Linked DNA regions of Homo sapiens: region 1 is linked to region 2. Evidence: fine-mapped expression QTL. A gene starts in region 2. The other region holds a variant in brackets. All regions are shown on one strand. Distances are between the middles of the regions. Region 1 overlaps NPHP4 (nephrocystin 4). Region 2 holds the start of NPHP4 (nephrocystin 4).

Region 1 (5,366 bases), 110 kb before region 2:
TGCCCAAGCTCCCAGCCAAACCCGTCCTACTCGACAACCAAGATCACTGCCCAAGCTCCCAGCCGAACCCGTCCTACTCCACAACCAAGATCACTGCCCAAGCTCCCAGCCGAGCCCATCCTACGCCGCAACCAAGATCACTGCCCAAGCTCCCAGCCGAGCCCCCGTCCTACTCCACAACCAAGATCAGTGCCCAAGCTCCCAGCCGAGCCCCTGTCCTACTCCACAACCAAGATCACTGCCCAAGCTCCCAGCCGAACCCCCATCCTACTCGACAACCAAGATCACTGTCCAAGCTCCCAGCTGAACCCCCGTCCTACTCGACAACCAAGATCACTGCCCAAGCTCCCAGCCAAACCCGTCCTACTCCGCAACCAAGATAAGTGCCCAAGCTCCCAGAAAAACCCCCGTCCTACTCTACAACCAAGATCACTGCCCAAGCTCCCAGCCGAGCCCATCCTACGCCGCAACCAAGATCACTGCCCAAGCTCCCAGCCGAACCCATCCTACTCCACAACCAAGATCACTGGGATCAAAGAAAGCAATCTGGTGCTTGCTGTCCCTGGACGACAAAAGCTGACCGAAAGACAGTGCAAAAGAGGCTGCCAAGGAAATCAGCTGTGTGAAGCAGCCACCAAGCATGAGGGCAGTCCTCTCCCCATCATCAGAGTCCCAGGGCCCTGGGCCCAGCTGGCAGACACCCATGTCCCCAGCCATGGCACAGGTTTCCTTGCGTGGCCTCAGACAGGAACATGCACTGTGAATGCAGCTGGCCCAGAGCAGAATCCAGGCCGAGGCCGAGGCTCAGGTTCTGTCCCGTGCGGTAACCCTGCAGGCTTCCATGGCCAGCACCCACGCTGCTAGCAGAGAGACGCCTACTGTACCACAGAATAGCCAGTTTTATGAAGAAAGAAAAGCCATAACACCTTTTTTTCCAAAAAACGCAGAACTGACGGAGGAGAGCCAGGCTCGCTGCACTGATGCGCAGAGTGCTGCGGGTGGATTCGACCTTTGTGAAAACCTCTCCCTCTCCCGTCAGCGCCGGAGTCTCCCAGGCTGGCTATCTCAGCCTCCCCTTCCTATGAGCTTATCTCTCTCTTGCAGGCAAAGTATGAAAATGACAATTGGAGATAACATATAATGGAGGCAATCTTTCTTCTGAAGATAAGATTTTAAAACCTGGAGTCACTGCACATTTGGTGGCTGGAGAATTAAATATAAAAACAACCAACTCGGTCTCAGAGCAGAACGCTTCTTGCAACTCCCTTAGTTGCATGAGCCTTTGAATAATGCCTGCTCCTCACATGTGGCTCATTTATTTCTCCAGAACCTAATTGAGTTTTGCTGTGTCCATATTGTCTATTTACCAGGCCGCCTCGGATGTACATTCGTAAACAGGCAGGCAGAGCCTCCAAGTCGACTTAACGAGCTGTGCACTTGAGCCCCTCCGCCAGGCCCCCCACCAACCTCTGCGCTGCCAGCGTCGGGTGGATGTGGCCCATGGGGCTCTGGGGTTTACAATCAGGCTGGGTTCTAAGGAGTGGAAAATTCCCTAATAAAATAGCAGACAAGTCTGAATCTCATGCAGACAGACACAGCTTCAGAAACATCACACGGCTTAGTTTTATTGTGTTTTCAATTCTGCCCTGAAAAATCCCAAACGTTCCAGAGGACCCTCGGGAGGTTCAGTGAGCTTGTCACTGGCCCTACAGGGTCCCATGTCGGTCCTCTGCCCTGAGGTGCGCACAGGCAGGCACCCAGCCTTGTGTCCCTTGACACCCCATCAGCAGCCCCTATCCCAGCATAGGCCTCAGTCGAAGCCCCTGGAACGTCCCAGGTGGGACCCTCCTGAGCCACCCAACCCACCTGTCCCACCCACCACAGTCCTGGACGTGGAGTGAAGTCCAGGGCTTTGCTCAGGCCCTCTAACGAGCAATCCCGGGGCACCATTTTCTACAAAGTCATGGTGCTGGGCCGAGAAGAAATGCGCCTCTTCACTCTCCTCCTCCCGGGCTGCAGGGAAGTTAGGAACACTTCCCTTGTCTGTCCTCCATCATGAGGCACAGGGAAGTCTCTCCTGGAACCCAGTCACTGTATTTGAGGACTGTCCCGGAGATCCTCCAGGGATAGCAACAAACAACAACATGCAGGAGAGCCCGAGATGACTGATGACCTCTAACCCCAATCAGAAATTCAGAATGCAAACAACTGGGTCCAGGACAGACTCAGCGGCCAAGGACACAGGCTCCATGGCCAAGCTGGTGAGAATTCTCCCGGTTTCCTCCTGGGCCCGTGAAGCCCATGATGTGGCCCCTGCCCGAGGGAGCCCACACTCTACCAGAGGGGTTGGGCGGCCGCTGGAGAAATGGCACAAGGCTGGGGACTCTTACCCACGTTGGCCAAAGTCAGGTGCAGCCGGCCCTTCACCACCGAGTGGACGCCGATGGGCTTGACGCGGCCAAACCCCAGCATGTCTCCACTCACCACCATGTTGTCCTGCTCGTATTCAGTTGCCACGACCTCAAGCTCGTGGGAGGCCTGCACAGCCGGCCGGCCTTGGCGGAGGAGATGCTGCAGAAGAGAAAAGCGCGTTCAGAGGCTGGAGCCGGCCCTGGGCTGCTTCCACCAGCCCTGCAGGTGGAGGCTGCTCCCCAGCCCAGCAGGAAAGCCACTGTGGGCGGGAGGGGGTGTGCGCAGGATAAGACCCTGCACCACGCTGGGGGGTGAGGGGGCGGCGAGCCAGGCGCCAACGTCTTAAAGCAGGACTCCTTATTACTGGGGTCTTTTTCACAAAGT[C/G]TTAAGTAAAGTATGACTGGATTTACCCACTGAATAAATACCACTGGGCCCTGGGAAGGCATAAGTGGGTCTGGCAGCTGCCCTGGAGGATCCTCCCCTCCACAGGAAGCAAGAGCAGGAAAGAGGGCAGCCAAGCAACGCAAAGGACTCTTAGCCAAGCGTGTCTGGGACAGCGAGGAATCCAGGACGGAAACCCCAATGGGACTCCAGGAGGAAGACAGGCCATGCACAGAGAGGGCAGGGGAGGCAGAGAAGGCCGGGGAGGCAGGCCAGGCCAAGGGCACAGGGCACAGGGTACAGGGTACAATGCCTCCCCCGTTTCCCTGGGCCAGGAAGCATGGCTGGGGTAGAGGCCCGTGGGGCCCAGGGAGGGGCCATGGGGCACGAGAGGCCCGCCGGGAGCCCTGGGCTGGGGTTTGGCCCAGTTCTGCATGCCAGGCCGAGGCTGCTCGGGGCAGGGTGGGAGCAGGAAGCCTCAGACCCAGCAGGGCCTCAGCAGGACTTTCCTGACCACGGGCTCTTCTGCTGATCAGATTCCACGGCTCAGCACTCTGCCCGAACGCCAACACTGTGAGGCATGTGGGGGATGACAACGGCCTCACGGCTGTGCCCCAGGCGTGGCTGGGACACTCTTCCCCCGTGCCCTCTCTGCTCTGGTGCTTCCTCTCACATAAGAAGCAGTGTGGGAGCAGATGAGGTTCCGGATTTTGTAATTCTCCAGTTTCTACAGCAACAAAAGTGCCTGTCTCTGGGAGTGAGACGCCAGACCTGACCCTTCCCTTGTGGGTCTGGGGGCTTCCGGTCGCCGCAGACCCTGGTCGCTTTGCCACACTCGTCTACACTGCATACGATCACTGCATAGACATCGATGATTCCGGAACCTCAGTCACTGGGAGACTGAGAAGATATGAGAAGTCTCCTTTAGGGAACAGCCAACAAATACAAGAAACCATGTCAGCTTCTCCAAGAGGCAAGGAAATGCGAATGAAAACAAGGCACCATTTTCCTCCCAAATCATTATCAAAATGGCCACTGGCGACTGGTTTAAAGGCTGACACACTGTGAAGCCAAGGACATGGGACACAGTGCCCTCTGTCTTCAGGAAGTGCAGGCCTGGCTGAGCCTTCGGGCCAAACCCCCATCTGGCTCTGCATGCCTGCGGCCCTCACGGTGGCACCATCAGAATTCTACTTCCGGGAACATGTCATTAGGGAGAAGAGGATGGTAAATAGCACAAGCCCCGGAGACAGAATTAGGCTAAGACTCTGCCCTGATGATCATCAGTGTGACCCTGGGCCTCTGTTTTCTCCACCAGAAACAAGGATAAAAACAGAACTGCCCCAGGGCTGGGCTAGGGGTCACACTGAAGGCAGCACAGGAGCCGTCCGTCCCTAGAGGAAACTCTTCTCATCGTCGTAGCAACGTGTTACGGCCAGCACCCCCAGGAAATCAACTAGAAGATGGGGGTAAAATTGAACTTCAAGAAGTCCACAGCAGTGATTAGCAGAAGGAAAAGCCACTGTAGTGACCCGCAACAGCAAGAGCTCAAACAAGATGAAAGCTGGCCCCGCCTGCAGAAAGTAAGTCCACCAAAGGCTAACCGGAGCAACCTAACTCTCCCAGGATCTGGAGTCCAGAGGATTCTCTCTGATCATCTCAGTTTTTCACGTTTTCTACCTAAGTTTTAAAGTTACAAGATTTTATTTTAGAAAAGTGAAGCTTTAAATTTAATTTATTCAAGTCTATGTCAACAAGCGTAACGGCACTTGTTTAAGGGGCTCTTCGTGTAGGGGGAGATCAAATGGCTTCCGTCTCCAGGTGGCACAGCAAAGAGGGGGCACAAGGCTCGGCTGGGCACGACAGGGGAGCCACTGCCACCCCACACATGCCCAGCGGGACCCGGCTCTGCCTCCCACACCGCCTGCCTCCTTTACGCCTCCCCACCATGCAGAGCCTGCTGGGGCTGAGGCCTGTGCTAGAGATGCTGTGGTGTCGACACACAGTCCTGCCCTGGGGACATCAAAGCCAGCATGGGAGACGGACAAGCAAGGGCCACGATGACCCTGTGGGGCCCTTGCCATGACCCCAACAGGAACAGAGGCCCAGGGTGAGGCATGAGAAGAGCAGCCAAGCCCTGCGGAGTCCCTGCCACCTGCAGACCCCACCCTGAACGTTCTGTGCACAGCCCACCACCCTGGGGGGCATCCCCCTCCTCTAGAAGTCACAGGGAGCAGGGATGGAGCCTGGATCAGTCGGTCACACGGGGAGCCAAGAGCAGACCATGCCTCAGAGGAAGAGCAGCTGGAAAAACTCCCATACCCCATCCCCCCACCCCGAGAGCACAGCGCAGCTGAAGGAGCAGAGGAGCCGTGCTTCTCAGGGGTCAGCAGCTGCTGGAGAGGACAGGAAGCCCCGGGGGTTCAGCCGTGTCAGGAATCCAGGAGGAAAGCAGCTATGCGGCACTCAAGAAAAGTGGGGAAATCTCAGAGACTCAGGGGCTGCAATAATGACGCCACATCCTCTCCCAGCTCCGTCCCGTGGCCTGAGAGAAGTCTCAGGACACCATGGTA
Region 2 (5,366 bases):
TCTTTTAAGGATGAAATACAAATGCCCTGGAGGAAGTGCAGAGGGGCCTTTGGGGCCAAATCAACAATAAAAGAGAAAATCGAGAAGGCTCCAGGTCTTGAACCCAAGAAAAGGGTACAGTGGGCTCTCCAGGGGAAAAAAAAAAAGAAGAAGAAGAAAATACACCCACTTTTAATGAGCCCCTGATGCAAGACAGGAACTCACATTCTATGGTTACTATTCCAACAACTCTGCCAAATGAGAATCATCATTATCGCCATCTTACAGATGAGAACACTGAGACTCAGAAAGGATAAACAGCCAATCCAAGGTCACACAGCTAGCTATTATAACTAGCTATTATAATAGTATTATAGATATAATACTGTAAGCTATTATAACTACCTCCCACTACCTCAATCAAGGAGGCCAGGAGAGGCCAAGGGAGAAGAGAGGCCCAGAGGGAAAAAGTAAGAGCACCAAAGGAACCCAGGGCTAATGCTGTCTCCTCTTTAACTTCAGGACAGATTCGCAGCCTCCCCACCTGTTTCCAACCTCCAAAATGAGAGCTGTGAAATCTCCTTGAGATCTCTGCTTCTGCTGATCTATTCAGCAACTATTTCCCGAGCACTTGTGTTCCAGTGCATAAGAAGGCTGTCAAATGTGCTGTCTTCAAGCATCTAGAAAGCCAGTGGGGGAGAAAGACAAGAAAGTGACTGTGAGCAGCAACAGGCCCCCGGGAGGGTGCAGAGGTGAGCAGGGCTGAAGGAAGATGCAGGGGGTGGGAGGCGCTGTCAGGGTCCGGGAAGCCTCCTTCCCGGAATGGAAAATGTGTAATGCCTGAGACCCAGATGCCTTGGGGAGCTTTTGGGGAAGCAGAGGTCTGATTAAGCACTGCCTGGAATTCCCTCATTCATGAGCATTCTTTCAGCACCTACCCTGCGCCCGGGAGAAACGGTCTTGAACACAGCAGACAAGCTCGCTACCCCCATAGAATGTAAAGAAACGGGGCACAAATTAGCATACAAAAAGACACAAGTGTGACCTACGGAAACTGCACAGAGGAGGTGCAACGAACGGAGCCCTGGGTTAGGACCGGGAGGCGCTGCCCACCATCAACAGAAATACTCCTCCTTTTGCCAACTACACACGCGAGAGGCTGGATTTCCTTCACAGACGTCCACCAAAGCCACACATCGCGACACACGGAGGCAGAAAGCAGCGGTCTCCTAAGAAGTTAGACACGAGGAATCTCGGGCAGCGAGGTGCCTGCAAGCCCGGGGGCGGGCGGGAGCAGCCTGCACGCGTGGGGAAGGGCACGCGGGAGCGGGTGGCGCCTTCCGGGCCGGGTCGGCCGGGAGGTTCCAAGGCAGGAAAGGGGCGCAGAAGGCCGGGACGGCGCCGGGTACAAAGCCTCGCAGGGACGCCCGAAGGCCGCAGAGCCACCGCGGGGAACTGACAGCCGGAGCCGGAGCTGGAGCCGGGGGGCGGGGAGGAGGGGCGGAGGGGCGCGGCCAGGCGGGGTCCGCGGACTCCGGCCTGGGAAGGATGCGCGCGGACTAGGGCGCGGGGAGCCAAGGCCCAGAACATCGGTACCGCGCTCCCTTCAGCCGAGGGGCTGCAGAGAGGCCAGGGGGCAGGGGGCAGGGGGCAGGGGGCAGGGGGCAAAGGGCAAGGGCAGAAAGGAACCCACGTAGCCAAACGGCACCCAGCGGCCCCGACCCCAAGTGTCCCGACGAGGGGGGACGCCTGCGACTAACGCGGGGACAGCCCCCGCCGCGCGCCACCGCCGCACCCCAGGCACCGGGCCCCCACGCAGGGACGGCGTGGACCACCCTACCCCCGAACCCCGAGGCTCTGGCCAACACTGAGGCCCCCTGTGCCTCGAGGCCGCGTCCAACCTCCCCCGCGGCGCCGGCCCACATGGTTCCGCCCGCCGCGGGCCGCGTTACCTAGGAGACCGACCCGCCGCGGCCGCGCCGGAGGCCACGGAGCCCACGCTTTTCAGAGAGTCTCCACTCGACGGACCCAGAGGCCCGGCGGCCGGTGCTCAACGGAGCCACAAGCCTGAGGACCGAGGACTGGCCGAGGGGCGCGCCCCGTCCGCTGCCACCCGCGGGAGGAGCCTCGGAAGGCGGCGCACCGCGCCGCACACTCAGTCCAAGAACCCGCCTCGCGTCACTGTCGCCGTCAGGGCCGCGGAGCCAATCAGAGCCCAAGTCGAGGGCTGCGCTTTGCGAGCGCCAGCCAATCGGTGCGGCGGCGGGCCCATCCTGATTTGCATGTCCGACGACCCCTCAACCAATGGTAATGTGACTGGCGTGAACAATAGCCAATCAGAAGCTGGAAGAGGCGTGGCCCCGGGCGTCCCACGAGGTGAAGATGCTGCTGGCGGAACCTGCAGGAGCTAGCGGGATTCGGGGGCGCTAAAGTCGCAGGGGCAGGGCGGGAAGGAAGATCCGGCGCGGGGCACAGGATCCGGAGCTGGAGCCCCCAGGTGAGTACCGGGGAGACCCCGGCGGGGCGCGCTTTCCACCAAGCTGCTCCGGGACGGCGGCGGCGGGTATCCGCGAGGCCCGCGCTGCGGCAGGCGCCGCGGTCCCGTCTCCATCTCTTCTTCCCCGGCCCTGCGTCCCTGCCTCCGCCGCTGTCTCACCTCCTCTCCAGCCTCCTCACCTCCTTCTCCATCGTCTCCCTTCCCCCATCCCTTTCTGTCTTTCCTTCCCTGTCCTCCCGCCCGCCCGACCCTTCAGCTCGCATCCCTGACCCCTGCCCCTGCCGCCGTCCCTCTTCCCGGTGCACCTCTTCCCCATCTCTGCCCGCTCCGGTCCTAGCAGCCTCGCCCTCCCCTTTCCTCCATCCTCCTCTCATCCCCTCTCCCGGCCTCTGCGCAGCCCCACCGGGGCGCTGCTGTTCCCGGTCCTCCCCATCTCTCCTCCTGATCGCTTCTCAAGGCTCATCCGTCGTTCTCGCTGCCTGTCCCTGTGTCGCTCCGGTCCCTTTCCCCACCCTCCCATTCTGCCCCCAGCCCCTCCGACCTCTCCCCGCGGGCACGCTCTCACCACCTTACCCTGCTCCCCAAGACTGTGACCCTGCTTCCTGCACCAGTTCCTCGGGCTGTTTACAGCACACACACCGCCACTTCTGACCCTGAGCCCCTACTCCTATCTTAAGCTTCTCCCTCCTGCCAGGCCTTGGCACAAAGCACTTCCGCACCTCCCTACCTGCTGCTGCTCCCAGGATGCAAAGACCCCACTGCTGCACCGCGTCCTGCGGCATTAGCAGCAGCCGGGGTACCTGCCCACCTTCCCACCCCGCCAACCAGCCGCATCCTGGTGTCCCTCCTCCTGGCATTTGTCCTGGGGGCTCTTACAGGGACTGTGCTTTGCCCGCAGCATCCCGGGGTGCTCCAGGTGGAAAGCCCCTTAGCACCTTTCCTCCCTGGCCACCGTCTCCTTCCCTCCCCACCCCCACTTTCCTGCTCAGCCTCACTTTGTGATTCAGCATTTTTGGGGTTGGTAACTTTCTTGCTTCCTGTCGTGATAGGGACCTGGCTACGGAGCTGAAGGCAGGGGTCTTGACCCTGCGGTTAGCAGGGCCACCTTAGGAACCAGACCTGAGCTGCCTGGTTGGGAGGGGGCTGAGGAGCTGGGGACCGCCACTGGGGGTTGTCTTTTCCTCCCTTTCATTTGTCTGCCCTGTGTTGAACTGTGTCCAAGGGGAGATGACATAAGTAATAGCTCTTGGGGAAGTGGGCTATTAGCATTTATGGAAATTAATACATCCACATCCGAGGAGCAAGAACACCAAGTTCAGGCCACAGCTGTCCCACTGTCTGTCGTTTCAGGATTTTTTCTTTCTCTGCAACTTCTCCTCCCCGACAAAAACCCCAGCCTCACCCCTCCCCTTTCCCCCAGTGCCAAGAGTAAGCTCCTGCTCTGCTAAGGAAGCCGCATTCAGGCCCCGCGTTGCAGGTTGCAGGGTTTGGGGACCTACGTGTGGAGAGTCACATCTGCCCACCTGATTCTCGCCTGGCGGCCGTGTCTGCTGCAGAGCCCTGTGCAGCTCCTGGCCCTGTGCTCTCGCAGTGTGGGGCCCTAAGAGTGCACTTGGTCCTCCAGGTCCTGTCATTGTCTCCACGGCCACACTCGGCCTCAGTGGCACTGACAGTGTTCGGGCCGCAGCACATCCCTCGAGAGCAGCATGGTAGGGGCTTCCCTGTTGACACCCAGGGCCATTTTTTTTTTCCCTGCGCCAGTCAGCAAATGCTTTGTAGGTGCTAGTCAACACCTGGGGGCTGAGCCAGGCACTGGAGTTGGGGGGTGTCGTGAAAAAGTGTGAAACCCTTTTCGTGTGTTTCTTGGTTGAGAACCGTCTTGGGTCTGGATTTGGAGCCTGGATGGGAAGCAGTGTGCACAGAAGCCATTGCACCCGGGAGGTGGGACGTGGGCCATGGCGCTAGAGAGCTGGAAAGGCCGAGGGTGCCATGGGCTGGCCAGCTAGAGAAGGCTTCCTCGCTTTCATTTTTCAGTCATCTTCTAAGACCCAAATGGTTCAGGAGGAAGCGAGTGCCACACAGTTTTGATTTGGCAGTTTCCGGCCTGGGCTTGGAGGGAGGGGCCTCCCCTAGACCTTCCTGTGTGTTGGTGCTCTGCCGTGGTAACTGGGAACACATCATCTGTGTGGAAGGAGAGCCTGCTCCCTCGCGAGAACCAGGGGACCGTGCTTCTGTTTCCAGGGACTCTGGCCAGGTGCGGTATGTGTCTGGTCCTCGGCTAAGTTCTCAGTGATATTCACGCCGCCAGAGGTCCCAGAGTGAATGTTTTCCTGGCGTCCCTGAATAAGGAGGCAGGACAGTGGGCAGCTCGGGGCGGCAATTCGAGAAGGATTGATGCCAGAGGTGTCTAGGGCCATAGACCCCATGTTCCCGCCAGTCCCCCTCCCACCACCAGGAGGACTTGGGTCTTGGCACCCAGCAGCCGGTCATCCTTGCTCTCAGAGGACTAAACGGAAGGACAGGCTTCTCCAGGGTCAACAGAGGCAGTGACGGAGCTGGGTTGGACCCCCTACTTCCTACTTATTTGAGCCCAGTTCATGCCTTGGCTGTCCGAGCTGGGGGAAGCCAGCACCCCGAGGACATGACCGGCTGTCCCTTCAGAAGGCCACTTGGAGGCATTGCTGACATTCATGGGCGCAGCCAGTGCCCTTGGGTGTGTCCAGGTCACTGGAGGGGCTTTTGGGACTGGGAGGTGCCACTACCATGGAGATTTCTCAGCGACTCAGTCCTGCCTGGCATGCAGGCCCTGGTGCAAGGGTACTGTTGTTCGTGGCCTTCAAAGAGATGGCCCCATAGTTAGAGAAGAGTGAGGGCACCAGGTCCGTGGTGG

Evidence for each region.
Region 1: its variant is fine-mapped to the expression of NPHP4 in tibial nerve (GTEx, PIP 0.97).

The regions. Positions count from the first base shown.
Region 1 is chr1:5,884,896-5,890,261 of GRCh38, forward strand. It overlaps NPHP4 (nephrocystin 4), which reads right to left. Exons shown (of 30, transcript NM_015102.5): 18 at 2,391-2,571. Among named protein-coding and RNA genes, the nearest start is that of MIR4689, 25 kb to the left of the region's middle. The variant C/G (reference allele first, on the strand shown) is at 2,797.
Region 2 is chr1:5,990,313-5,995,678 of GRCh38, forward strand. It overlaps NPHP4 (nephrocystin 4), which reads right to left and starts at 2,113. Exons shown (of 30, transcript NM_015102.5): 1 at 1,932-2,113. It also overlaps a transcript of KCNAB2 not described here. RefSeq lists enhancers at 682-1,536, 3,413-3,462 and silencers at 1,613-1,792, 1,943-2,112, 2,153-2,332, 2,413-2,662.